Linked DNA regions of Homo sapiens. The protein of the gene in region 7 interacts with the protein of the main gene of each other region in a pairwise test. Each region holds a gene or a part of one and is shown on either strand. Other genes may lie near its edges.

Region 1 (4,013 bases), on a different chromosome or scaffold from region 7:
GCACGGGCTCTGAGGCGCATGCAGAGAGGAGGAGGTGGAGGAGGAGTGGGGGGAGAGGTAGAGAGAGCAATCATTAGGGCTGGGGTGTGTGTGGACTGTCTCAGCTGGCAGAGGGGCACCCCGTCCCACCTGGAGGAGGAGGTTGGAGGGCTGGCCTGCAGGGTCACTGCACCTCTGCCCAGAGCCTCTTACCTCCAGATCCTTCAGGGTAGCAGATGATGTAGGGCTCTCCCCGTGGATACCTGTTGCTGACTACAAGAGATGAGAGTGCACATGAAGATGTTCTGTCCCACTCAGTATCTAAGCCCTCTGACTTCTTTTCTTCCCCATCAACTGGCACAATTTTCTTTTCTGCCTATCTTGGACCCTTTGTCCCATAACTCCTTTGTGCCAACTTCTCTCATGGTTCTTATCTCCCCACCACAGCACCCTGTGGCCCTTTCAGTGACTCCTGTGCCAAGTGACTGTTCTCATTGTCCTGGCTTCCCCTTGAGACTGGGGATGAGGAAAATCGAACAGCAATGACCATATCCTGGGTGTTCTGGGTGTTTACAGCAGGCCATGTACTAGGGATTAACATAAAAACAACAATAACAAATCTCATTTAAACTTCACAAATGGAAGTGAAACAATACCACCTCTATTATACAGATGTGAAAAGAGAGGCCCGATGAGGTCTAGCAACTTGCCCTAATTCATATCCCTAGCAGACAAAGAGGCAGGATTCAAACCCAGAATTCTTCACAGGTACCCAACAGTCCATCCACAATCTTAACAATTACCCTCTAGTGCCCCTTGGGTCCCCTGTCCCCAGGAACCTAGTCAGCCAAGACTCACATCTCCAGGTGAGTGGCAACCACCAGAAGTGGCTGTCTCATGGATGCTGCCATTTGTTTTCCTGTTCCTCTTGGCTCCTGCTGGAACACCAGGGCTGTTTCTCTGCCAATATTCTTTTAACTGTCAGAAACAAGAGCAGTAATACTCATGAGAACTATCAGCCCCTGCAGCCACATCCTCCTTTACAGTTTTTATAAAATACTCTTATACACCATCTGATTTAATGATACCAACAACTGTACAAGGTGTTGTCACAATCATTTAGTGACTCAAAGAGATTGATATCATGGCTAGAAAAAAAAAGAAGAAAAGAAAAAGGCGACAGACGAACTTTGAAACTCAGTCTTCTGACTCCAAACTCTGGGGTTTTACCAAGAATCAGCAGCTGCCAGGGACCAAAACCAGAGGCAGAGGTAGAAAAGTAAACATTAAGTAGGCAGGAACTGTATGCCATGTGGTTTAGTCATACATCCTCACACGTCTGTTAGTGTGAAGAAGTGCACCAGTACCTCTCAAACTCTTATATCAATGTGTCCTCATGGCAGAAGGCAGCCTTTCTGTTAAATCTGGGAATTTATCAGAAAGAGGACAACCCAAGCCTCATTTCAGAGAGAAGTCTGGTATACTCTTAGAAACCTATGTGACTGTCATCCCTAAGTACATTAATGTTTTTTCTCTTGATCTCAAGAGAATCAATGGAAACTGATGCTTCAGAAAGATGTCCCATATGTATCCTGTGGCACTCAAAGTACCCCAGGTTTACATAATATGAGGAAGATTCAAGCTGTCAAGTTCAGTTTCCCAAGATCTATTCCAGAGAAGATGAGCAAATCTCACTTCACAGACCACTGGCTGAAGGGCAGTCTGGTCCCAGAACCATGGAGAATTAGAATGTGAGGTGGAGAACTCACAAAAAATTTGTTAAAATCTCTCTGGAAAGTAGAAGCCTGGGAGAAAACCAAACCAAGTCAAACCCATTCTCCAGTTGCCATCCAGAGGTACTGTCAATGTTTTGAGCTCACAGGGGAAGTGTAGGCTTTTCCCGCTGTCAATGTTTATGCTAAGGGAGTGAGGCAGCCTGAAACCTCTTGCTCCTAGGTCCCAATCTCCATTCCCCTTCCAGCTGGAAATTTGTGCTGTGACAAGAGGAACCAGAAATGGGGTGGCAATGCTTAGGGGACTGGGTCATAAGATCAAAGGCCAGTCTTGCAGTAATGACAGTTACTGGATGGACCGTGACATCACTACATTCCACTCTTCCTGGTGAGGGGGAGGGACCACATCAGCATGATGTCCGAGTCACCGCTCCATGATAGGGGAGGGAAAAACAGAGCTGGGACCCAGGTCCTTGGAGACACCAGTGCACACAGCCTAGGGAGGTCCACCTTGAGGCAGCAGGAGGGAAGGGAAGAGTCAGCAGCAGGGAGCCCCAGGATTCACCAGCCTAAAGTCACCCAGGGATGACTGGTGAGGGTGGGGTCTGGGGCTGTGGGACCCAGGTCCTTGGAGATGTGAGCCCAAAAAGCCCTGGGAGGTCAAGCTTGGGGTGGCAGGAGATGAGGGCCCAGTAAAGGAGCGGGGAGCCCCAGGATTCACCTGCCCAAAGTCACCCTGGGGTGATTGGTGAGGGCAGAGACTGGGCTGCTTGCTGAAGGGGTGGGGCTGACTGACAAAACTTTGGTGGGGGTAGCCCAGAGGCACCGGTGTGGGGGTCCCAGTCCGGTGAACCTCGGGAGTGGTATGGACTCTGGCAGCAGTCTTGTCGTTGGAGAGGATCTATGGCTGGGTTGGGGGTCCGTGACCTGGTGTGTTTTTACCTTTCTCTTGGCTGCTGCCAATTTACTTTGTCGAGTTTCTTCTGCCATCGCAGGGTGGGGAGGGAGGCGGGCTTGGGGCCACATCAGCAAAATCCCACCAAGCACTGATCAACACCTCCAGTCACCTACCAGGTAGCTGTGCGACTGAGCCAGAGGAGGCGTAACCAGGGATGCAGTAGAAGGCAGAATAGGGGCGTGGCCTTAATGCTCCAAGCCCATTGGTTAATGAGAAAGATGAAAGGGAAAGGGGGCGTGGCCAGGCATCATGTGTCCAGAGGGACCTTTGGCTCACAAGGAAAGCTGCCCATGCAACCACTGTCCCCACCCACTCTAAGAGAGGGGAGAGGCCGCCAACTCTGGGAGAGGGGCAGGGCCGGCTTTTGCTTTAAAAGCTTTTAAAAAATATATATGTGTATACTTTATATATATGTGTGTCTGTGTGTGTGTACCTGTGTGTTCCTCCAGAGCTGTCTTCATGATCCAGCTTCTATGCAAGGTCTATGATTTTGGCCTATATTTTTCATAGAGTACAAAAATTACCAGTATTACCTTAACCGAGATACAGATCCTATGAAGATGGAAAATCCATAGCATGCTTGATGATTACTGAAGCAGACTATATTATCCAACATTCCAATAAGATAAAATAATCACAATGACTTCTCTTTTTTGGAAAAATGTTTCTCTTATTCTCCTACGTTATTGTGAAGACTTTTTTTCTTAAACAAGAAACATGTGTAATATTTGTAAAAACACAAAGCTTTTGGGCCGGGTGCAGTGGCTTATGCGTATAATTCCAGCACTTTAGGAGCCTGAGGCTGGCGGATCATGAGGTCAGGAGATTGAGACCATCCTGACTAAAAAGGTGAAACCACATCTCTACTAAAAATACAAAAAATTAGCCAGGCGTGGTGGTGGGTGCCTGTAGTCCCAGCTACTTGGGAAGCTGAGGCAGGAGAATGGCGTGAACCCAGGAGGTGGAGCTTGCAGTGAGCTCAGATCGTGCCACTGCACTCGAGCCTGGGCTACAGAGCGAGACTCCTTCTCAAAATAAATAAATAAATAAATAAATAAAACTTCTATTTCTTTCACTTTCTAATATAATTTTAATATCTCCTCCTGGGATTTCACTAAGACACATTTTGGACCTCATTCTGATCTTCCTCTCCCCTCCAAGCCCACCAACTTCTGCCCTATCATCCATCCTCATGTCTCTCTGTGTGACATGCTGACTTACTTTTTGGAGAGAATCGCCTAAACAATTAATTCTTTCTTCTCGTGTCTAATCCATCCACTAGTTTCTTATTTCAACAATTACATTTTTATTTCCTTATTTCATTTTATTCTGAGACTGAGTCT
Region 2 (3,500 bases), on a different chromosome or scaffold from region 7:
TCAGCCTCCTGAGTAGCCAGGACTACAGGTACCTGCCACCACACGCAGCTAATTTTACATCTATATCTATCTATCTATCTATCTATCTATCTATATATATATATATATTTTTTTTTTGAGACGGAGTCTCGCTCTGTAGCTGGGCTGGAGTGCAGTGGCGCGATCTCGGCTCACTGCAACCTCCGCTTCCTGGGTTCAAGTGACTCTCGTGCCTCAGCCTCCCGAGTAGTTGGGATTACAGGCACGCGTCACCACACTCGGCTAATTGTTTATATTTTTAATAGAGATGGGGTTTCACCAAGTCGGCCAGGCTGATCTTGAACTCCTGACCTCAGGTGATCTGCCTGCCTCGACCTCCCAAAATGCTAGGATTACAGGCATGAGCCATGGCGCCCAGCCAAGAATTTTTTTTTTTTTTTTTTTTTTTAAAGAGACAGAGTCTTGCTTTGATGCTCAGGCTTGAATGCAGTAGTATGATCATGGCTCACTGTAATCTTGAATGCCTGGGCTCAGGAGCCATGACCATAGGAGTATGCCATCACACCTGGATAATTTTTTTTCTTTTTTTTTTTTTTTTTGATACAGAGTTTTGATCTGTCACCCAGGCTGGAGTGCAGTGGTGCGATCTCTGCTCACTGCAAGCTCTGCCTCCCGGGTTCACGCCATTCTCCTGCCTCAGCCTCCCGAGTAGCTGGGACTTCAGGTGCCTGCCACCATGCCTGGCTAATTTTTTGTATTTTTAGTACAGACGGGGTTTCACCATGTTAGCCAAGATGGTCTCGATCTCCTGACCTCGTGACCCGCCCGCCTCGGCCTCCCAAAGTGCTGGAATTACAGGCGTGAGCCACCGCGCCTGGCCATTTTTTTTTTTTAAATGTTTTGTAGAGATTGGGTCTCACTGTGTTGCCCAGGCTGGTTTCAAACTCCTGAGCTCAAGTGATCCTCCAGCCTCAGATTCCCAAAGTGCTGGGATTAAGGCGTGAGCCACCACTACATCAAGCCAAAAAAAATTTCTTTTTTCTTCCTTTTTTTTTTTTTTTTTTTTTTTTGGAGACAGTGCCTCACTCTGTCACCCAGGCTGGAGTGTAGTGGCATGATCTCAGCTCACTGCAACCTCCGCCTCCTGGGTTTAAGTGATTCTCCTGCCTCAGCTGCCTGAGTAGCTTGGATTACATGTGCCCACCACCATACCCAGCTAATTTTTATATTTTTAGTAGAGATGGGGTTTCACCATGTCGGCCAGGCTGGTGTTGAACTCCTGACCTCAAGTGATCTACCCGCCTCAGCTTCCCAAGGTGCTGGGATTATAGGCGCGAGCCACTGCGCCAAGCCAAAGAATTTCTCAACTCACAAAAGGCACAAAACATAAAGAAAAAGATTTGAAACATCTTACTATATCAAAATGAGTAATACACCATGAACATAAGATTAAAAGAACATTCAAAGTACCATCTCTAGAATGGCTTATCAATTACAGAGGGGAAAAAGCGGAGGATCCTGGCAGAGAGCACTTTAACCACATGACAAAAACCTGATCACCACCAGCCTCACATGCTTCCTGACACGACACACCAAGAAGAACATGATGTCACTTAGACAATGCCCTGCCAAAGACGAGAGTCTGAATTTAATATTGGGAATGTCAACTGAACATCAAGTGACAATCTACACAACCACCAGCTGGGTCTTTTAAAAATATATCAATTTCATGAAAAAAAAAAAAAAAGAAAGGAGAGTGCCATTCAAGGTTGAGGAAGACTAAAATAACATGACAAGTCAATGTAACACAGGATCCTGGATTGGATCCTGGATCAAAACAAATACCCAAAAACCATACAAACTGTATCAGCTGCATACAAACTATATCAGACAGGAATTCTGTATCAATAATAAAGTATCTGGGGCCAGGCGCAGTGGCTCACACCTGTAATCCCAGCACTGTAGGAGGCCAAGGTGGGCAGATCACTTGAAGTCAGGAGTTCAAGACCAGCCTGGCCAACATGGCGGAACCCCGTCTCTACTAAAAATACAAATATTAGCTGGGCATAGTGGCACACACCTGTAATTCCAGCTACTTGGGAGGCTGAGGCAGGAAAACCACTTGAGCCTGGGAAGTAGAGGTTGCAGTGAGCCGAGATCGCTCCACTGCACTCTACCCTGGGTGACGGAGTAAGATTCCATCTTTAAAAAAAAAAAGTAGGTGGTACCTGGTCAAGAGAGGAAGGTAGTCCCTCTCCCTCTCCCCCTCCCCCTCTCCCTCTCCCCACGGTCTCCCTCTCCCTCTCTTTCCACGGTCTCCCTCTGATGCCGAGCCGAAGCTGGACGGTACTGCTGCCATCTCGGCTCACTGCAACCTCCCTGCCTGATTCTCCCGCCTCAGCCTGCCGAGTGCCTGCAATTGCAGGCACGCGCCGCCACGCCTGACTGGTTTTCGTATTTTTTTGGTGGAGACGGGGTTTCGCTGTGTTGGCCAGGCTGGTCTCCAGCTCCTAACCACGAGTGATCCGCCAGCCTCGGCCTCCCGAGGTGCCGGGATTGCAGACGGAGTCTGGTTCACTCAGTGCTCAATGGTGCCCAGGCTGGAGTGCAGTGGCGTGATCTTGGCTTGCTACAACCTCCACCTCCCAGCCACCTGCCTTGGCCTCCCAAAGTGCCGAGAGTGCAGCCTCTGCCCGGCCGCCACCCTGTCTGGGAAGTGAGGAGCATCTCTGCCTGGCCGCCCATCATCTGGGACGTGAGGAGCCCCTCTGCCTGGCTGCCCAGTCTGGAAAGTGAGGAGCGTCTCTGCCCGGCCGCCATCCCATCTAGGAAGTGAGGAGCGTCTCTGCCCGGCCGCCCATCGTCTGAGATGTGGGGAGCGCCTCTGCCCCGCCGCCCCATCTGGGATGTGAGGAGCGCCTCTGCCCGGCCGCGACCCCGTCTGGGAGGTGAGGAGCGTCTCTGCCCAGCCGCCCCGTCTGAGAAGTGAGGAGACCCTCCGCCTGGCAACCGCCCCGTCTGAGAAGTGAGGAGCCCCTCCGCCAGGCAGCCGCCCCGTCTGAGAAGTGAGGAGCCCCTCCGCCCGGCAGCCACCCCGTCTGGGAAGTGAGGAGCGTCTCCGCCTGGCAGCCACCCCGTCCAGGAGGGAGGTGGGGGGCCAGCCCCCCGCCCGGCCAGCCGCCCCGTCCGGGAGGTGAGGGGCGCCTCTGCCCAGCCGCCCCTACTGGGAAGTGAGGAGCCCCTCTGCCCGGCCAGCCGCCCCGCCCGGGAGGGAGGTGGGGGGGTCAGCCCCCCGCCCGGCCAGCCGCCCCGTCCGGGAGGGAGGTGGGGGGGTCAGCCCTCCGCCTGGCCAGACGCCCCGTCCAGGAGGGAGGTGGGGGGCCAGCCCCCCGCCCGGCCAGCCGCCCTGTCTGGGAGATGAGGGGCGCCTCTGCCCGGCTGCCCCACTGGGAAGTGAGGAGACCCTCTGCCCGGCCAGCCGCCCCGTCCGGGAGGGAGGTGGGGGGGGTCAGCCCCCCCAC
Region 3 (3,500 bases), about 66 Mb from region 7:
CACGAATAGAGAGTGAATTGCTGTGATGGAAATGAGGGAAATAAACCCAGCATGACAACTGTCAATTTTGTTATTGTAAACTAATGGGAAAAAATCTTAGATTAATATTTACTATTTAAACAAATAAATTACAGAACTAGCTAAAGCTTGTGCATGCACACACACACATACAACACAAATCTCCCCTCTCCTATGGCGGATGGGCCAACTAGTGCTCATAGCTCTTCATTCAGAAATGTTAGGCTGTCTTATTAAAAGCCAATTACATAAAGCCAATATATGTTATTTATAGGTGCTATTTCAGAAAAGCCACTATGAATGATGTGTGTTATTAATTTCAAAAGCAATCACTTTATGTTCCTCATAACAAGGTGGACAATTTAAAAACACATGGCATTGTGTCTGTGCCTGTCTGCAAAAGTCAAATGGTGTGAAAAGTACCCATAGAGAATGCACAAAACAACTATGTAATTGATACTCAAGGGCAGTTTCTTTGGCTTGAGTCATCTACACAATTGATTTGCTTCCCCACTTTTCAAAGCAAATCCAGAAACAACTGAACACATTCATTTAAGCTTTGAAAAATTATTTTATTCACAGATCTTTAAGGCTAATAACTCTTCAGTGGTAGGCCTTTTCTTTCCATTCTTTCGAAAGGAAAAATGTGTAATCCTCCCAAAGCTAATACGAAAATTTAAGAAGGCAGTATTTTGAAACATGCCTGGCTGCCATGACTATTAACTGATTTACTAAACAGACCCAGAAGAGCAAAACTGTGATCAGAAATCCACCTAGGGATGTGTTTCCCAAAGCATAGTGAATCTACCCTCTGGATCTGAACCACCTAGGGTCCTTAATGAAATGCATATTTGAGGACCAAATCCCAGATTAAGAGAATCAAAATCTCTGAGTGGAGGTGTAATCTGCCTTTTAACTCCTGATTATCACTGGGCACGCTGAAGTTTGATCACTAACACAAAATTAGTAAAAAGTAACCACTCTACCTCATTTTCCCCAGGGCCTACTGAAATGTATAACATTTGCCTACTTTACTCACTTGCACTTGAAATTTTCAGGAGTCATGTCATGCTCGTGAGGATACTGAGAATCCCAACGCTGACATGGAATTCCATTCCAAATGGTATTGACAGTGCCCCTGTAGCCTTCTCCTTGACCTTGGATGCATTCAGTTGTTTCCAAAGGAACATCAGTGTCATTCATAGTATTGTCAGCTATTGGCAAAAAACAACAACAAAAAAAAACTTATATAAAATCTTTGAAGATGTCATTTGCCTCTTAGAGTTCATTGGCATTTGTATTAGCAGATTTTTTTTTCTGTTACTTATAAGCTTTTATAATAATTGAGTGGAATAAGAAATTTAACTTAACATTATTACTAACTTCATTCCAATTTTCCTTTCATTCAAATCCTAAATTAGTTTTTTCTTGAAAAGTTACTTAAATGCATTTTACCTCCACATGTATAACTTATATATGCTGAATATATAGTGTTTCTGAAATGACTATACAATTATTTCTAAAATCAGCTTGCTTATAAGTACATACAAAGTGGTAATGAAATTAACCATAATTTTCCTCCAATATAATACATATATTCTGGCCAGGTATGGTGGCTTATGCCTGTAATCCCAGCACTTTGGGAAGCTGAGGTGGGTGGATCACCTGAGGTCAGGAGTTTAAGACCAGCCTGGCCAACATGGTGAAACCCCATCTCTACTAAAAATACAAAAAAAATTAGCCAGGAGTGGTGGTGGCAGGTGCCTGTAATCCCAGCTACTTGGGAGGCTGAGCCAGGAAAACGGCTTGAACTCAGGAAGTGGAGGTTGCAGTGAGCCAAGATCGTGCCATTGCACTCCAGCCTGGGCAAGAAGAGTGAAAGTCTGTCTCAAAAAATAAATTAAATAAATAAATAAATTCTAAGCTAACATGTTAAATATATTTTTAGTCATCTTGTTGACAATAAAGAAAAAATCAGTTATTCCTAGGAAGATCTATCTCCTGCTTTTTTTCCTAGTCCAACTTCAATGCTTACTATACGTCATGAAGATTTGAAACCCTCAGTCACTAAGTAATAAAAGTATAAAATTAAATTTTTACCACAATTTGGTCTCTCTCTCTCTCTGTAATGTTTAGTCAATCAAAATGTAACTCAAAACATTCCAGAGCAACTAAAATTCATATATCTTCTTAAAACATACATGAAAATGTTTATGGTTTGATAAAAGTGTAAACTTCCCAGCTACCTTTACAATCTAAATGGCCATTCAAGATGCCTCTGGATGAAACTCAAGTTGGCAGCCTCTAGGACAGTTTAAGATTTGAGTAAATTTCATTGATTTATCCATTTTGGAATTGGATGTACCACTGTACGAAGGACAGGCCAGAATTAGACATGCTTTCAGTGACTAGGGATGCCTATGAAAGTTTTCTATAGTTAATAGTGTAAATATTTTTAATAGCTTTTAAATTTCATCTAAACACCTCTCTCATACAAACCATTTCTACCTTATGTAGTTAGTTGAATGCTTTATTTCATTGCATTCTATGAGCTAACCTAGGCAAACTAAACAATAGCTTATGTTTAGAGTTATTCTACGAAGCTTTGTGAAGAAAGGGAAAACATTACCTTAATGACTACCCTAATTACTGAAATAAGTTGTACTGTGCAAATTTTCAGTAAATTCCTTTTAAATAACTTTATTGCAGCCCATTTAAAAAGTGTTTCAATGTTTTGTATATCTGCTTCAGAGAATAGAAATATGACTCAGAAATATCCAAACTTAAAAAGAAACTCAAATGAAGATGAAAAATGTTCAGTAATTGACCCATAAAGTGGTAACTGAGAGCTGATAGCCTAGAGAATTCATCTATATTGATATTGATGATATATATTGATTTTAGGAAGAACAAAAATTATTGGACTTGGGGAAATGGCTTGTATAGAAAAAGTTGATGCTGATTATGCAAGTCTTTTATAATTTCAATACTATCCAAAGGTCTTTGGTGAAATACAAAATAAGATGGATTTCATAGGTCCTAAGGAACTATATTTCATCAATATAAATGCCATTAAGTTACTCTATTTCTGACTATTTGAATTAACTGTTAAATGATATGAGGAAACTGAATGTATGGGGAAAGTCTTAAAAGGTGATAACTCTAAAACAGGTACAAGGTCAAGTTTGTACTGCTATATTTCATATCTAGTTATAAAACTGATGGGAAAGGAGACAAAAATAAATGTCCTTGGGCATCTATCAGTTCATTAGCTTAACATGCTAAAAGAAAATTTGGGGGCACAAGCTCTTGGGCAGCAAACTTGTGACCTCAGTCAGGACTAAGTCCTGACAATGGAAGGGAGTTCAGAGTTAGAACAGCCAGTGTAAACACACTTCCACTAATCTCATAGACTTCATTGTCTGCCTCAGGTACCTCAACTCTTTTACTTTCCTACTTAATTGTATGTGATTTATTTTGAT
Region 4 (3,500 bases), on a different chromosome or scaffold from region 7:
GCTAACCTAAGCAATTGTGTTTAGTAGGTTAGATGAATTACATGCATTTTCATCTTAATAGTATTTATCAGGATGTAACTCCATTGTAAGATGAGGACAATTGTATATATATTTTAGTGATATTATTTTATTATTATTATTATTATTATTATTTTTGAGACAGGGTCTCACTTTGTCACCCAGGCTGGAGTGCGGTGGCATGATCTCAGCTCATTGCAGCCTCGACCTCCCAGGTTCAAGCAATCTTCCTGCCTCAGCCCCCACCAAGTAGCTGGGGTTATAGGTGTGCACTACCACACTGGGCTAATTTTTGTATTTTTTGTAGAGACGGGGTTTCGCCATGTTGCCCAGGCTGGTCTCGAACTCCTGGACTCAAGCAACCTGCCTGCCCCAGCCTCTCAAACTGCCGGGATTACAGGTGTGAGCCACTGTGCCTGGCCATAGCGATACTATTTTAATTTGACAAATCCTTTTTGTTGTTCGAAGTGTTTTTACCTAAGCTCTTAAATGTTATAATTCCATTATTATTGTTTTTTTATCACTCTCTGCTTCTTGAAACCCCTTCCAGAGGTTGTGAGATAATGACTATGAAAAGAGGCTTATGAACTGCAAAGTGCACAGAAACACAAGTATTCCTTCTGAATAGTTCCTTTTTTATCTCTGTATAGTTCTAAGACACTACATTTAGTCATGTAAGGTTTAAATTCCCAGCAAAGAATGCTGATTTATACTACACATAACACAAAGTTCTATTTCCAAATAAACAATGAACACCTTTATACATTTCAAAATACTTTCATTTCTATTATTCTATTTGATGAAATGGTTATGTTTTGACTGAAAGTCTAGTGAAAAATATTAAAAATCCAGACTTGAATCACTCTGACAGCTATACCACCGATCAAAAAAGTTTTTACTTCATGAACACTGTCATTAGTTTCACATGAATCAATAATTACCACATCATTCCCAGGGTTCGGCCACTATTTTTAAACTTTTAATTTTGAAATAACTATAGATTCACAGGAAGTTGGAAAAAACAAAAAAAAGTTCTGTATATTAAGGAGGTCTTCACTTCGTCCCTCCCCACAGTTAACATCTTACCCAATTATAGCATGATATGAAGACCGGGAAATTGATATTGATGGTCCACATAACTTTTTCAGATTTCATTTCTTTTATATGTACTCGTTTGGCAGAAGGGGGCTATATAGTTCTATGTAATTTTATTATATGTGTAGATTTGTGTAACCACCACGACATTCAGAACACAGAATTGTTCTATCACCACAGGAACCCTCATACTACCCCTTTATAGCTCCACCAACCCTTTCCTCCCACTTCTAACCTCTGGCAAACTCTGATCTCCACCGCCACAATTTTGTTATTTCGAGCATATGAATGGATTTGTACAGTACAGAGCCTTTTGAGATTGGCTTTTTTCACTCAGCTACTTCCCTTGATATCCATCCAAGCTGATGTACATATAGTTAGCTAGTTCATTTTTATTGCTGCATCACTTTCCATATTATGAACATATCAAAGTTTATTCACCTGCAAAAGGACCCATTTTTAGATGGCAGTTTCCTTCTATTTTATTACATAATGAGTCAGCCAAAGATTACAATTTCTCCAGATATGTTGCTTCAGATTTTAACAATAATTTATCCCCAAGGAAAAGGTTTTGCTACAGGAATACTGATCTCCCAATGATACCTCCTGCTCACGGAGATGCAGCACACATACTCTAAGACTCAACCCTGTCAAACATGTTTTCCAAGTGAAGATCTCCTTACCTACAGCTGTCTCTACTGGCTCCTTCAGAAAAAGACATCCACCAGGCCGAAGGATCCGGGCGATTTCAGCCAAAATCTCAGCACTGTGCAGAGTGGTGCTTCCTGGGACTAAACCTGACAAAATAATGTCAAAGCTGGATTCTTTGTGGGCAGCTGAAAAGAAGAGGACTCTAATTAGCAATCTCCTGAGCCTGGGATAATCTCCTGGTCCCTTCCAACCCCCAACAAAAGCTACAGACCTCACCCTGAGAGAATGGACACCACTCGATATCCATCCAAGAAGCTGGATGAATAGTAAGTGTTTTAAAAAAACATGGAATAGCTACCAAGAAAGAACATACTTATGGAAATCATCAACTACACTCCTAAGCTCTGCTGCAGGAAGTGAGGGACCCCAAACGGAGGGACCGGCTGAAGCCATGGCAAAAGTACACAAATTGTGAAGATTTCATGAACATTTATTAGTTCCCCAAATTAATACTTTTATAATTTCTTACGCCTGTCTTTACTGCAATCTCTGAATATAAATTGTGAAGATTTCATGGACATTTATCACTTCCTCAGTCAATACTCTTGTGATTTCCTATGCCTGTCTTTACTTTAATCTCTTAATCCCGTCATCTTCATAAGCTGAGGATGTATGTTGCCTCAGAACCCTGTGATGATTGCGTTAACTGCACAAATTGTTCATAAAGCATGTGCATTTAAACAATACGACATCTGCGCACCTTGAAAAAAGAACAGGATAACAGCGATGTTCAGGGAACAAGGGAGATAACCATCAGGTCTGACTGCCTGAGAGCCAGGCGGAACAGAGCCATATTTCTCTTCTTACAAAAGTGAATAGGAGAAATATCACTGAATTCTTTTTCTCAGCAAGGAACAGCCCTGAGAAAGAGAATGCGTTCCTAGGGGGAGGTCTCTAAAATGGCCACTCTGGGATGTCTGTCTTATATGGTTGCAGATAAGGGATGAAATAAGCCCTGGTCTCCCGTAGCACTCCCAGGCCTGTTAGGACGAGGAAATTCCCACCCAGTAAATTTTAGTCAGACCAGCTGTCTGCTTTCAAACCCTGTCTCCTGATAAGATGTTATCTATGACAATGCGTGCCCGAAACTTTATTAGCAATTTTAATTTCGCCCCAGTCCTGTGATCTCGCTCTGCCCCCGTTTGCCTTATTTTATTGCCTTGTGAAGCATGTGATCTCTGTGACCCACACCCTATTCGTACACTCCCTCCCCTTTGAAAATCACTAATAAAAACTTGCTGGTTTTGCGGCTTGAGGGGCATCACGGAACCCGCCGACATGTGATGTCTCCCCCGGACACCCAGCTTTAAAATTTCTCTCTTTTGTACTCTTTCCCTTTATTTCTCAGACCAGCCGACACTTAGGGAAAATAGAAAAGAACCTACGTTGAATTATTGGGGGTGGTTCCTCCGATATATCTCAACTGAAAAACAACAGGGTGACCAGCCACCACTATCACATGCCACCCTAAATGAAAACTCAGATATCAAGGAACCACAGAAATGCAACACTCCCATGGAAACCCCTCCAGCCTCATAAAGACAACGTGGGTGGGTACTTACATTGCAACAGCTGCTTGATGTTTTCCACAGACACGCGGCCCTCATTGCCGGTTAACGCTTGAAGCTTATCCACCAGACCTTTCAGAGCCTCCACTGGGGATGACTTATCCCAGA
Region 5 (3,500 bases), on a different chromosome or scaffold from region 7:
TAAAGAGATTTAAATGTTTCGGCATGTAAGTGATAGTAGAAGCCATGAATCTCAGTTAAAGTACCCAAGAAGAAGACAGCAGGGATGGCAAAGATGTGACACATGTTCTGTTATCCCTTCCTTCCTACCTATGCAGATCCCAGTATTCCTACCCACTGGGTAGGACACCACTCAAAATCCTTTCAAATCCAGTCCTTTCAGGGAACTGCCAGTAATACAGAAGTGTAAGTATAACCTATTTGTCAGCCCTGATGTAAGAAGGCCAAGAAACATCAACATTTAAGGAATAATTGAACAACTGAACAAAGACAAACCAATGGAAAATAAGAGGGGAAAATCAAGAGGATGGAGTTATAAAAATCAATAGAAGGGGCTGGGGTGCAGTGGCTCACGCCTGTAATCCCAGCACTCTGAGAGGCCAAGGAGGGTGGATCACCTGAGGTCAGGAGTTCAAGACCAGCCTGGCCAACATGGCGAAACCCTGTCTCTACTAAAAATACAAAAATTAGCCAGGTATGGTGGTGGACACCTATAATCCTCCTGTAGGCAGGAGAATCGCTTGAACCCAGGAGGCAGAGGTTGCAGTGAGCCAAGATCACACCACTGCACTCCAGCCTGGGAGACAGAGTGAGACTCCATCTCAAAAAAAAAAAAAAAAAAAAATCAATAGAAGGAAAAGGAACAAAAATTAACAAGTGCCCAATATATAACAGGCATTATTTGGTGCTCTACAACCTATCTCATTTAATTCTTCAAACGGCTCAGTGGAATTATTAGTATTCTCTCCATTTTACAATTAAGGAAACAAACACGGAAAGGTCAGATAATTTTCCCACAATTGTAAAGGAGGTAAAGTTTAAGCCTAGGACTATCTGACTCCACCCATTACAGCACTGCTTTCCACAGACTGTAGAATGAATGTACTTAACGTCTTCCTCCAGCCAAGCATTATGGACCACAGATGCTCCTTTACTCAACCTCTGAGTATTTGTTTGGGCTCAGGATATGAAAGCCCCAATTATTTTACATGCTACAACTAATATTAGCTGGCTTAATTCTGAACTTTTCCCTCTAAACAAACAAATATGTTCTATTCAGACACCGATTAAAACTATTTTGAATGGTTTCAAAAAAAAAAAAAAAAAACTTACCAAAAAGGGGGTGGGGGAATAATAATCCTGATTTATGACAGTTGCAGTTCATATTATTGAAAGCTCACATGCAAGGATTAGTCTATTACTTCATGGAACATAAAAACATAAAGTACAATAGGGTGAAATTTAGTTTAGGATGACCTAAATAAGTTTATAACAATTTAACTCATAAAGGCACACCATGCTTACATACCTAAAGCTATCATGAAAGGAGGATACAGTAGGCAAAGATCCGTTCTGTAGGTATCATTCACTATCCTCCTATAGAAATGTAAATCATATTATTACTGAAAGCAGAACTACCTCATCTGATTGTATATTTCCTCCAGAGAGGGCCAGATTTCCCATCTTTGCACACATTTATTTCCTTTTATACTACTGAAGCACAGCTATAAAAGTGAAAACATCAAGGCAAAAGGATGGATACATGAATGTGACAACAAATAAGCACATATCAATGAATAAAATTACAGCTAAATATATTTTAAATTTCAAAATCTCATAACAAATTATAAACACATTTTTCTAATTTTTTAAAAATCAGAAAAATCAAATTAAAAAACCAGAAATTATACAGTAAATTTATATGTATGTTGCAGACTACCAAAAAGTATTCTGATTACTTTAAAGATAACTTCAGTCTTAATTTTTATGTTAACAGTCTGTGTTTTGTATAAAATTAAATTTTAATAGGTATATTTATGGAACAGATAATTTAGGATTGTTTTCATTTTGGCATTTACACCACTATAGTTATTAAAATTCAACAAGTGGTATTTTGCTCAACATAAAATATCTTGGGGCAATAGTTTAATGACTTTAAAAATACTTAACTTCATATTTAATTGTCAACCTTCCTATCTAATAACATGTTACACTATTAATAACTTCTGTTCTAATTACCATGCAAGGGGAAGCAACATGTCTTCTTGGCCCATGTCCTGCACATACTGGAGCAAAGGTCTATAAGGATGATACACTATCAAGCAACAATCCTAGAAACAGTTTAAAAAATGTGTATGTATAAAAAACAGATTTATTACAACACAAAAATGTTATCATTACCCAACTGATTTGTAATTGTGTATTTCAAAGTGAATTTCACTAACTCATGCTTGCTTCCCTTTTATTCTCTTAAGCTAGCAGTATGACAGCCCTAAACTCTACCGTAATAGTGAAGGCAGTGCTCTCTCTGGAATATACCTTGATAAATCGGTTGGCAGTCAGTCAGCATCCATTCATTCCCTTAGAGACTCAAAGTGTCACATCTGCAACACACTGAAACCTCTTATTAGCCTATAAATTCATAATTCCCAACTGGAGGAGCAGAATTCTGCCAAAGACATAATCTATCTTTAAATAACACTGCACGCACACACAAATTGTGCACATAATTTATGGTGGTTTAATGTCCTGACTTGTCTGTTTGTAATCCTTTCATTATAGTTACTTACTATAGAACAGAAAAATTTTCCCATCCTAAGTAGGATATACAAATTATTTTACAGGCTTCAGAGAGACTCTAGGTGCTAATATAAATAGGCTACCATGATTTCACCATCACATATTAGGTGGATGGTTTTAAAATGTACCTCTCTAAAATCATTTCTTTAAATAATTTCCAACTTCATTTAATTTAAAAATGTTTTAATCTATTAATCACAGAAGATTTACTTACCATTAGTTCTAACAGATAGAATTCACATTCTAATATCTGTTTAAAACAAAGATTATCAATGAAATGTCAATATGAAACCAAATTAGATAAGTCCACTTAATCTAACATAAATTACAGACATTATAGTAATTTATCAAAAATTTTTACTAAAAAGTTTTAAAAATCCAGACAATAAACATAGTTTATATTAAAATAAATATCTGCAATAAAAAATTACTATTAGAAATGCAATTATGATTATAAGGATTTTAATCCTTGTAAGGAAAAGCCAGCTTCTCACAATCATTCTTATTACTCACTTTTATTTAAAATATCCTGTAAAACCATCAGATTTTCCAGTATACTTTCTACTCAGCAAATGCAAAAATACAATTATTTCTACTTAATTTAAAAAATGTAACTTAAAGAGAATAAACAAATCCCTTGCAAGGTGGAAAAAGGACATACCTATTAAAATGTCAATAGAAATTCACCTTATATTTCATATTGTTCCATTAGTTTTTAATCCCAGCTAAATAGTAGTATCACCTGGGACCTTTTACACAGTACCAATGTTGGGAGCCCCAAGGCTGAAAATTCTGATTTTGTTGTTCTGGAAAGGATCCAACATCAGTATTATTTACAAGTTCCCAAGGTGATTTAATGAGCAGCCAGGGTTGATAATCGCC
Region 6 (3,423 bases), on a different chromosome or scaffold from region 7:
GCACTCTGTATATGAGAAGTTGAGAAGTACCCAGCCTGGGCATAATGATGTTTCTTTTGTCTGGGATCATTTAGTACACTTGAGGGTGTGCAAAACAGGAGACTAGGCATCCTCAGATTCCTGAACACCTTTAAAGGGCAAGGGGAAAGAAAGAAAGAAAGAAAACTAGAGTAAGAATGAGGCCGTGTGAATGAACAGATTTCAAAGCTCTGGAAAACTTGGGTCTAGGGTGGTATTTTGGAATACAAAGAAACAGCCTCATGGAATCCAATGCTTTGGATTTATGGTGTTCCTGTCACTGTATATCAGTATTCCTCCTTCTTTATGCAAAGGGTTGGTACCAGGAATCCAGAGGCCTACTGCAATCTATGCCCACTTTCACCCACTTACCTCATCCCTCACATCCCTGGCTGTAAGCAGATAACAGAGTATCTTCATGGTTCACCTGTCTTGCCATGTGCTGGTATATTCACATAATCAGAAGAACACTCTGAGGTTCTCAAGGACTCAGGCTCAAGGAATGAGTATCTTGCCATTGCTAGCTAGCAAGAGCAGGAGATTAGGGAGAGAAACGAAAGGAGAAGAGAAGCCCTTAAATTGTAGATCAGATCAGATATTTGTGTGTGTGGGGGTTCTACTCTTAGATGCTTATTCCTGCTCTCCAAGCTTCTCCATTAAGAACCTGTGTCTCTGCCAGCTTACCTAAGCATGACTTGATGAAGTTGCCAAGCTAAGATGTTGCTGCTTTTGCCTCTGCTCGAATCTCTTAAAAGTGATTTGTCTAAAAGTCAATACATCTAATGACATGTGCCTAAAACTTGTATTTTTCACCTTCCAAATTTCACAGAAGCTAAGAGGAGAATACATTTTCAAAGTCTCCTCTGAAAAATTTGGCAGCTTTAAAATTTTTCTAGTATTACCTCTGCTTTTGAGCAGAGTCATTTTGGTGGATTCATCTAGAGCAGCATTGTTCAGTAGAACTTTCTGTGATGATGGAAAGGCTCCGCGCCTGAGAAATAAGGAATGTTAAATAGGACACACAAGAAGTCAAAGGTTGATGTAGACTATTCCCATCGTCCTATGTATAAATGGAATGAGAAGCATCAGAGAAAGACTTTGGGGACAATAGCCACTAACTACATGTGACCATTGAATACTTGAAATGACTGGAAACTGAATTTTGATTTAATTTAATGAGTTTGAACAGTCATAAGTGGCTAGTGGCTACCACATTGGACAGCACAAAGAAATCTCTTTTGCTTCATTGAAAATTTCTGAACAAATATAAAGACTTTCAGGCAGAGGGAAAATCACTGCCTTGTTCATGCAATGATGCAATTCATGTCAGAATTTTATCCTTTTCTTTGACTCTTATTTTCCTTCCTATTTGGTTCTAGAAAAGTAGAGCAATAGAGAATGAGGGGGGTAGATGGGAGAAGGCTGGGAAGTTTCCATTGTAATTAGGTTCCTCTTCCACTCTTCTATTATTTATAGTTCAAATTTTTCTCTTTTCTAATTATAGTGGCTTAAACACTTGAAAATAATGTTAAAAAGTAGTCTTAATAGTGCATATCTTTTTTTCCTATTTCTAATTTTAATGGGAGTACTTTCAGTTTTATAATGTGGAATGCTGGATTTTGGATTGCAATAGTTAAATTTTTACAGTGTTAAGAAAATGTCTATCTATTCCTTTTTATTAAGATTTTTCTGCTGTTCCCATACTCTAGTTTCCCTTACCCCTCAGCTGTCACTCAGCTGAAGGCTATTTTATTTTCTTCCATTTCCTTATTTTTCTCCTTACCACTGATTACCATCTATGCATTTCCTTATCTTGTTTAACTAGAATGCCAGCTGTATAAATGGGAGGATTTTTGTCTGTTTTGTTCACCACTATATTCCAATACCCAGAACTTGGAATATATTCCAATACCCAGAACTTGGAATATAGTTAGGCACTTAATAAGTACTTATTGAGTGAATGAACTCCCCCTGTCTCCCTCCACACACAGAGGCATAGAATCTAAACAGATTAAAATGCTAAGTGTAAAAAAAAAAGTAAAAAGAAAAAAATTGTAATTGAAAATAGTTTTCAAATATCCAGAGGAGGATATTCTGAGCTTAATGCTGACAGTTAACATTTATGAAGTATATACTATATTCCAGGTCCTATGCTTAGTGTTTCATACATATTATTTAATCTTCCCAGTGACCCTATGAGATGAGATGAGTATTGATATTTTTTTCTGTAATATGGATGGGGAAAACCAGGCTCTGGGGATTATGTGGCTGGCCCAGGCTCCACGGCTAGGAGTTGGTGGGGTTGGGATTCTAATTCAAGCCTATCTGACTCTGGGGCCCATGTTCTTTCCTCTTAAAATACCCATCAGCAAATAGTGTGGTGATGAAAATTACCTTTGTATAGCCTAGAGTAGAACAAGGGGTGGAGGGACATGCATTTGATATCCGGTAGGTGGAAATGTAACCTAACCCTTAGTGAGAGAAATGTGGCGGCAATTATCCAAAGCCTGGGAAAGACAATGTCTTTTGCCTAGAAATCTTTCTTCATTAACTCATGCTATAAAAATAACAATATATGTACCAAAGCTTTAACTATAAGGAGGTTCATCAGGACATTTTTATAACGAGAAGAAATTGAAACTATTCAGGTCTTGATGATATGAGGAAATGATAGTAATAAGTATGACTGAATTCTTGTCATGACTTGTATGATGTGAGCATATTTTTGCCTCCCCTGTATATTTCATTCAGAATTGTTAGTTTATTTCCTTGCTTCTTCAGGAAAATTTAGGTAGGTCTCCACAAATTTTATGTGATTCTCCAGTCATGAAACATCTTCTCAATATAATAAGTAAAATGTGCAGGCCCATGAAATTAGTCACAACTACATAAATTGTTCAGAACTATGGATTCCTCCCTCCCTCAGAAGCTCCAGTTATGGAACAGGATGTGGTGAATCTCTCTCCCCCGCCTCCCACCACCCCCACTCTGGCTCTTTGTAATTCTATTCCTCCACCCACTCTGGACTAAAGCAAGTTTCTGTCTCCTAGGGAGTAGAGGGAGGACGGACCAATAAGAGTAGTAGGAAAGTTCTTGTGTAATAGATACTATCATGAGCTGGTTCTGTGCTTCTGGTCTTGACTCTTTCGTGGGAGATTTCAAGGGTTCATTGGAAACATGAAATGTCGTCTGGCCATTTGCAGTTCAGATACTTCACAAATTAGAGCCCTCTTCTCTGCTACTACAGGCCGCTTTGGCCAGATTTAAAGTCACCCTTTAAAGTCTTCAGTCATGATTCAAGTCTACTGTGTTCCCATAGACTTCTAGGATCACATAGCAAGCTCAATGAGTCGTATTCATAAAACCTTTTCTCTCAACTTGGAATTAGGAGGCAGCATTCCGGCT
Region 7 (3,500 bases):
TGACTAACCCAGGGAGGCCCTCTAAAGCCTTAGTTTTGATTAGGAATTTAAATTCTGCATGTATACATCTTTTCACATTAACTTGCAAAACTGCACGTAGAGATTTATGGAATAAAAATATATTGTGCACAATAACAAATTTTCAATTCAATGAAAACTGAACTATCTCTCATGTTCTGTGTTAATTTCCCCCCTGTGATGCTGTGGTTAGATTATTTCAGGAATGACTTCCAATGAAGCGATCTTGTCCTACACTGACACTGAGTTTGGTCACATGGCTTGCTTTGGACAATGGGACACTAGCAAATATGACGTAAGAGGCCTGAAAAGCCCTTGCTCACCGGAGTTTTCCCCCTCAGTGCTCCTGGGAATGCTTCTATCACCATTGGAAGGATCCCAAGCTAGCCTATAAGAAGATGAAACCACAGCTGAGGCCCAACCATCTCTTTCTTAGTCAGCCCACCAGCTGACTGGAGCTCCATGAGGGTTCCATGTAGGGCCAGCAGTATTACTGTCCAACTAAGCCCAGTCAAAATCTCTAACCTACAAAACCTAAAGCAAATAAAACTTTGGTTATTATTTGAAGCCATTAAGATTTGGAGTGGTTTGTTACACAGCAAAGGGTAACTAACACAAAATGTTAAAAGAATCTTTAAAACAACATTAAAATAGTATGTATAGGTATATATAATTCTTGCATGTAATTCTTTACCAAGCTCCTGAAGTCAGTTAGAAAGAAGAAATATCCAAGACACCTTCAACGTTTTCAAACCAGATTTACAAAACTGCTTCTAAAGATAAATGATTCTGCTCCGTGGTCAAACAATGACAGATAACCGTAGACCACCCCCAAAATGTCAAGTACAGAATCTTGTTTTTCCTCTTGGCTGAGAGCACAGTACTGGATCCTGTCATTTCTACAGATTGGAAGCAAATCCTAGTTTCCTAGTTCCTTCATCTACTATATAAAACACGGTTGCATTTCCTAGAATTCACCATCTCTATATAAGAACATTAGTGTGTAATTCTCCCTCCACATACACCTTTTTATTTTCCGTTCCCTGTTTAAAAAAAATAATAAAATAGAGGTCTGATGATGTAGACTTTGGATCCTGCTTTCCAGCATGCCAAATGTTGAACCCATAGAGGGAATTTTGTATGTGAAGTCTAAGGGAAGGAAAATGCTGTGCTCCATAACATAGGTACTAGTCATAATATGTAATAAAATACAAACTGCCAATAAATAAAACCACAGAAAAGTGTTCCTCTGTATATTTCTACTACCCATAAATAACCTACCAAAGCTGAAATGTAAAAATTAACAGAAGGAAAGCAGGTCATTTAAGAAATTGGATAAAATAACTTGCTCTCTTAAGACATGCATTCATTTGTCCACACCCTGTTGATATTTCTTTGGTTCCAATGGGATCCTGGAGGAGGTACACACAGTGAAAGAGGAAATGAGACTCTAGCCCTAAGAGTGCCAATCATAACTGCACTGTCCATAAAGATGTTTGCATTTGCCTTTCAGGAATGTTTTTGTAAAGATTAGCAACTGTTAACCGGCAGTAGGCTAGATTCTCCTCAGGGAAACAAGAATCTGTACAAGGAATTCACTGGGAACACTGTTAGAACAAATCATTTGTCATTCAAAAAAAATGCAAGAAAGGGACCTAAAAAGCAATTAATTTAAAAATATTATTTAGGTCTCATTAATTGGAGTCCAAAAACATTAATAATTTCAAAGTATTCTCTGAGTGGGTAGCAGAATTTTGAATTACTGACACCGATACAATTTCAAAAATATTTTGGGTAAAGGGGCAGAAATATTTACCAATGATCTATGTGTCCTTGCCTTTCATCATTTCCCAGCCATCTTGCACCTAAGCCGCACCATTTGACTATTCTAGACATTAGTGTGTAAATAGAAGTGACATGGCTAATTTCCAGGTGAAAACATTTAAAGGTCAGTGCATAAACTTCCAATTCTTTCTTATTTCTTGTAGTTACCATGGACACCACATGTTGAGATGCTAAAGAGTCAGAATGGGTCTGTGAGTGATTATCTGGAATGCTGGACATGTAGAGTTTGTATGGAGAGTGAGTAAGTAATGAACATTTTTATGTTATGCCATTGAGATTTGAGGGTGAATGTGTTACTGCAACTTATCATGACCTATCCTGAGCAATACAGAAAACTAATCTGGGTTTACCAACTTTCTAATATGCCAAATAAGGAGATTTTAACATATAAGCATGCACAACTCCTCACTGTATGCCATCATTATGTAAAAGAAATAATATTTTAAAACCCAAAAATACAGAAGGATAATAATCATAGGAGGATTCTTTCTTCAACTCAATAAGTATGGTTTTCTTTCAAATATCACTATATTATTTTTAATTTTGTTATTTTGCTGGCAAAATTTTATCATGGAATAGTATAACTGTCTTCCAAATGGTATTCAAGAATTCTGGATCTAGGTATTTCAAATATGGCAAAGAAGACTGTGGACCCAGGGCAATTAAAAAAGATCATATAATGATAATGCCCAGCTTTACCTGTCTTTCAGTGAGATCCAGATTCACTGCTATCTCGTATCGCCTCAGTCTGGTGAGATAATTATGATGGGCAAATTCTGCTTCAAGTTCTCTGATTTGCTCTTTGGTAAATGCTGTCCTTTCTTTCCTGGGTTTGCTGTTGACTTCTGACTTGTAATTTCCTTCCTGGGAGTCTGAAAAAAAAGGGAGACAGAATTGGTAATAACTCATTTATTCAAACACATGCAATCATATTATTCACAGTTATTGAATTACTACTTTTCCAGGTACTGCGCTAGACATGGAACAAATAGAGACCAAAGACAGCAAGACTGACGGCAGCTCAACGGGGGGAGATATAATTCTTATTTTTTTCATCTTCCTTCAGGTAACTCACAGTCCATTTGGGAAAGCATGTAATTTTCTTCTTATAAAATATTAACAAAACCTTTAACTGCTTGTAGTATGATATTAAGATAAACCAAAACCTCTCTAGAAAACACTTTTAGATATGAAGTTCTGTTTCATAAGTTGTTGAACATACGTACTTGAGGTCTAAGTAAGATTGAACATAGTAATCCTTTAAAAAGTGGCATCTCAATATAGGAGTATTTGAGAAATTCAAACGTTTAGCAACTGGACCATAAAAAATTTTATGCTCAGACTGAGCGTATGTAAAAGTATGTGTGTACTTATTGGCTTTTTTATCTGTATTTAAGTAAAATTCTTGAGGGCAATAGCAATGTTCTTTTATTTTATATTATACTTAGTCCAACATGGAATCTATAAATGAAATTGTGTTCATATGACTTAAACTATGAACAGAGTTTTTAAATGTGTTTTTCATTATATATAAGATAAACATAAGGTGCACAACATGTAACATCAGTGATCCACAACATCAAATCTTATAATGCAGTGTAAAATACCAATAGCAATTTTGAGTATATCATTCCATT

What was found.
Region 1: the proteins of MEOX2 (region 7) and GOLGA8F interact in binary tests that used the Homo sapiens proteins (3 or more experiments, as listed by UniProt).
Region 2: the proteins of MEOX2 (region 7) and ZNF329 interact in binary tests that used the Homo sapiens proteins (3 or more experiments, as listed by UniProt).
Region 3: the proteins of MEOX2 (region 7) and HGF interact in binary tests that used the Homo sapiens proteins (3 or more experiments, as listed by UniProt).
Region 4: the proteins of MEOX2 (region 7) and CIAPIN1 interact in binary tests that used the Homo sapiens proteins (3 or more experiments, as listed by UniProt).
Region 5: the proteins of MEOX2 (region 7) and CCNC interact in binary tests that used the Homo sapiens proteins (3 or more experiments, as listed by UniProt).
Region 6: the proteins of MEOX2 (region 7) and WFDC9 interact in binary tests that used the Homo sapiens proteins (3 or more experiments, as listed by UniProt).

Annotation. Positions count from the first base shown.
Region 1 is NC_000015.10:28,377,451-28,381,463, reverse strand, and holds the start of GOLGA8F (golgin subfamily A member 8F), read right to left. Parts: upstream 2,801-4,013; 5' UTR 2,703-2,800; coding exon 2,655-2,702; intron 958-2,654; coding exon 838-957; intron 253-837; coding exon 193-252; intron 10-192; coding exon 1-9.
Region 2 is NC_000019.10:58,144,290-58,147,789, forward strand, and holds part of ZNF329 (zinc finger protein 329), read right to left. Parts: intron 1-3,500. UniProt on the Homo sapiens protein: May be involved in transcriptional regulation.
Region 3 is NC_000007.14:81,728,548-81,732,047, forward strand, and holds part of HGF (hepatocyte growth factor isoform 1 preproprotein), read right to left. Parts: intron 1,233-3,500; coding exon 1,058-1,232; intron 1-1,057. UniProt on the Homo sapiens protein: Potent mitogen for mature parenchymal hepatocyte cells, seems to be a hepatotrophic factor, and acts as a growth factor for a broad spectrum of tissues and cell types.
Region 4 is NC_000016.10:57,437,386-57,440,885, forward strand, and holds part of CIAPIN1 (anamorsin), read right to left. Parts: coding exon 3,387-3,500; intron 1,950-3,386; coding exon 1,797-1,949; intron 1-1,796. UniProt on the Homo sapiens protein: Component of the cytosolic iron-sulfur (Fe-S) protein assembly (CIA) machinery required for the maturation of extramitochondrial Fe-S proteins.
Region 5 is NC_000006.12:99,548,161-99,551,660, forward strand, and holds part of CCNC (cyclin-C), read right to left. Parts: exon of another isoform or gene 2,869-3,500; coding exon 2,833-2,868; exon of another isoform or gene 2,433-2,832; coding exon of another isoform or gene 2,409-2,432; exon of another isoform or gene 2,150-2,408; coding exon 2,058-2,149; intron 1,416-2,057; coding exon 1,348-1,415; intron 1,240-1,347; coding exon of another isoform or gene 1,229-1,239; exon of another isoform or gene 1,152-1,228; intron 225-1,151; exon of another isoform or gene 137-224; intron 1-136. UniProt on the Homo sapiens protein: Component of the Mediator complex, a coactivator involved in regulated gene transcription of nearly all RNA polymerase II-dependent genes.
Region 6 is NC_000020.11:45,610,862-45,614,284, reverse strand, and holds part of WFDC9 (protein WFDC9 precursor), read left to right. Parts: intron 1-3,423.
Region 7 is NC_000007.14:15,624,184-15,627,683, forward strand, and holds part of MEOX2 (homeobox protein MOX-2), read right to left. Parts: intron 2,736-3,500; coding exon 2,563-2,735; intron 1-2,562. UniProt on the Homo sapiens protein: Mesodermal transcription factor that plays a key role in somitogenesis and somitogenesis and limb muscle differentiation. Required during limb development for normal appendicular muscle formation and for the normal regulation of myogenic genes.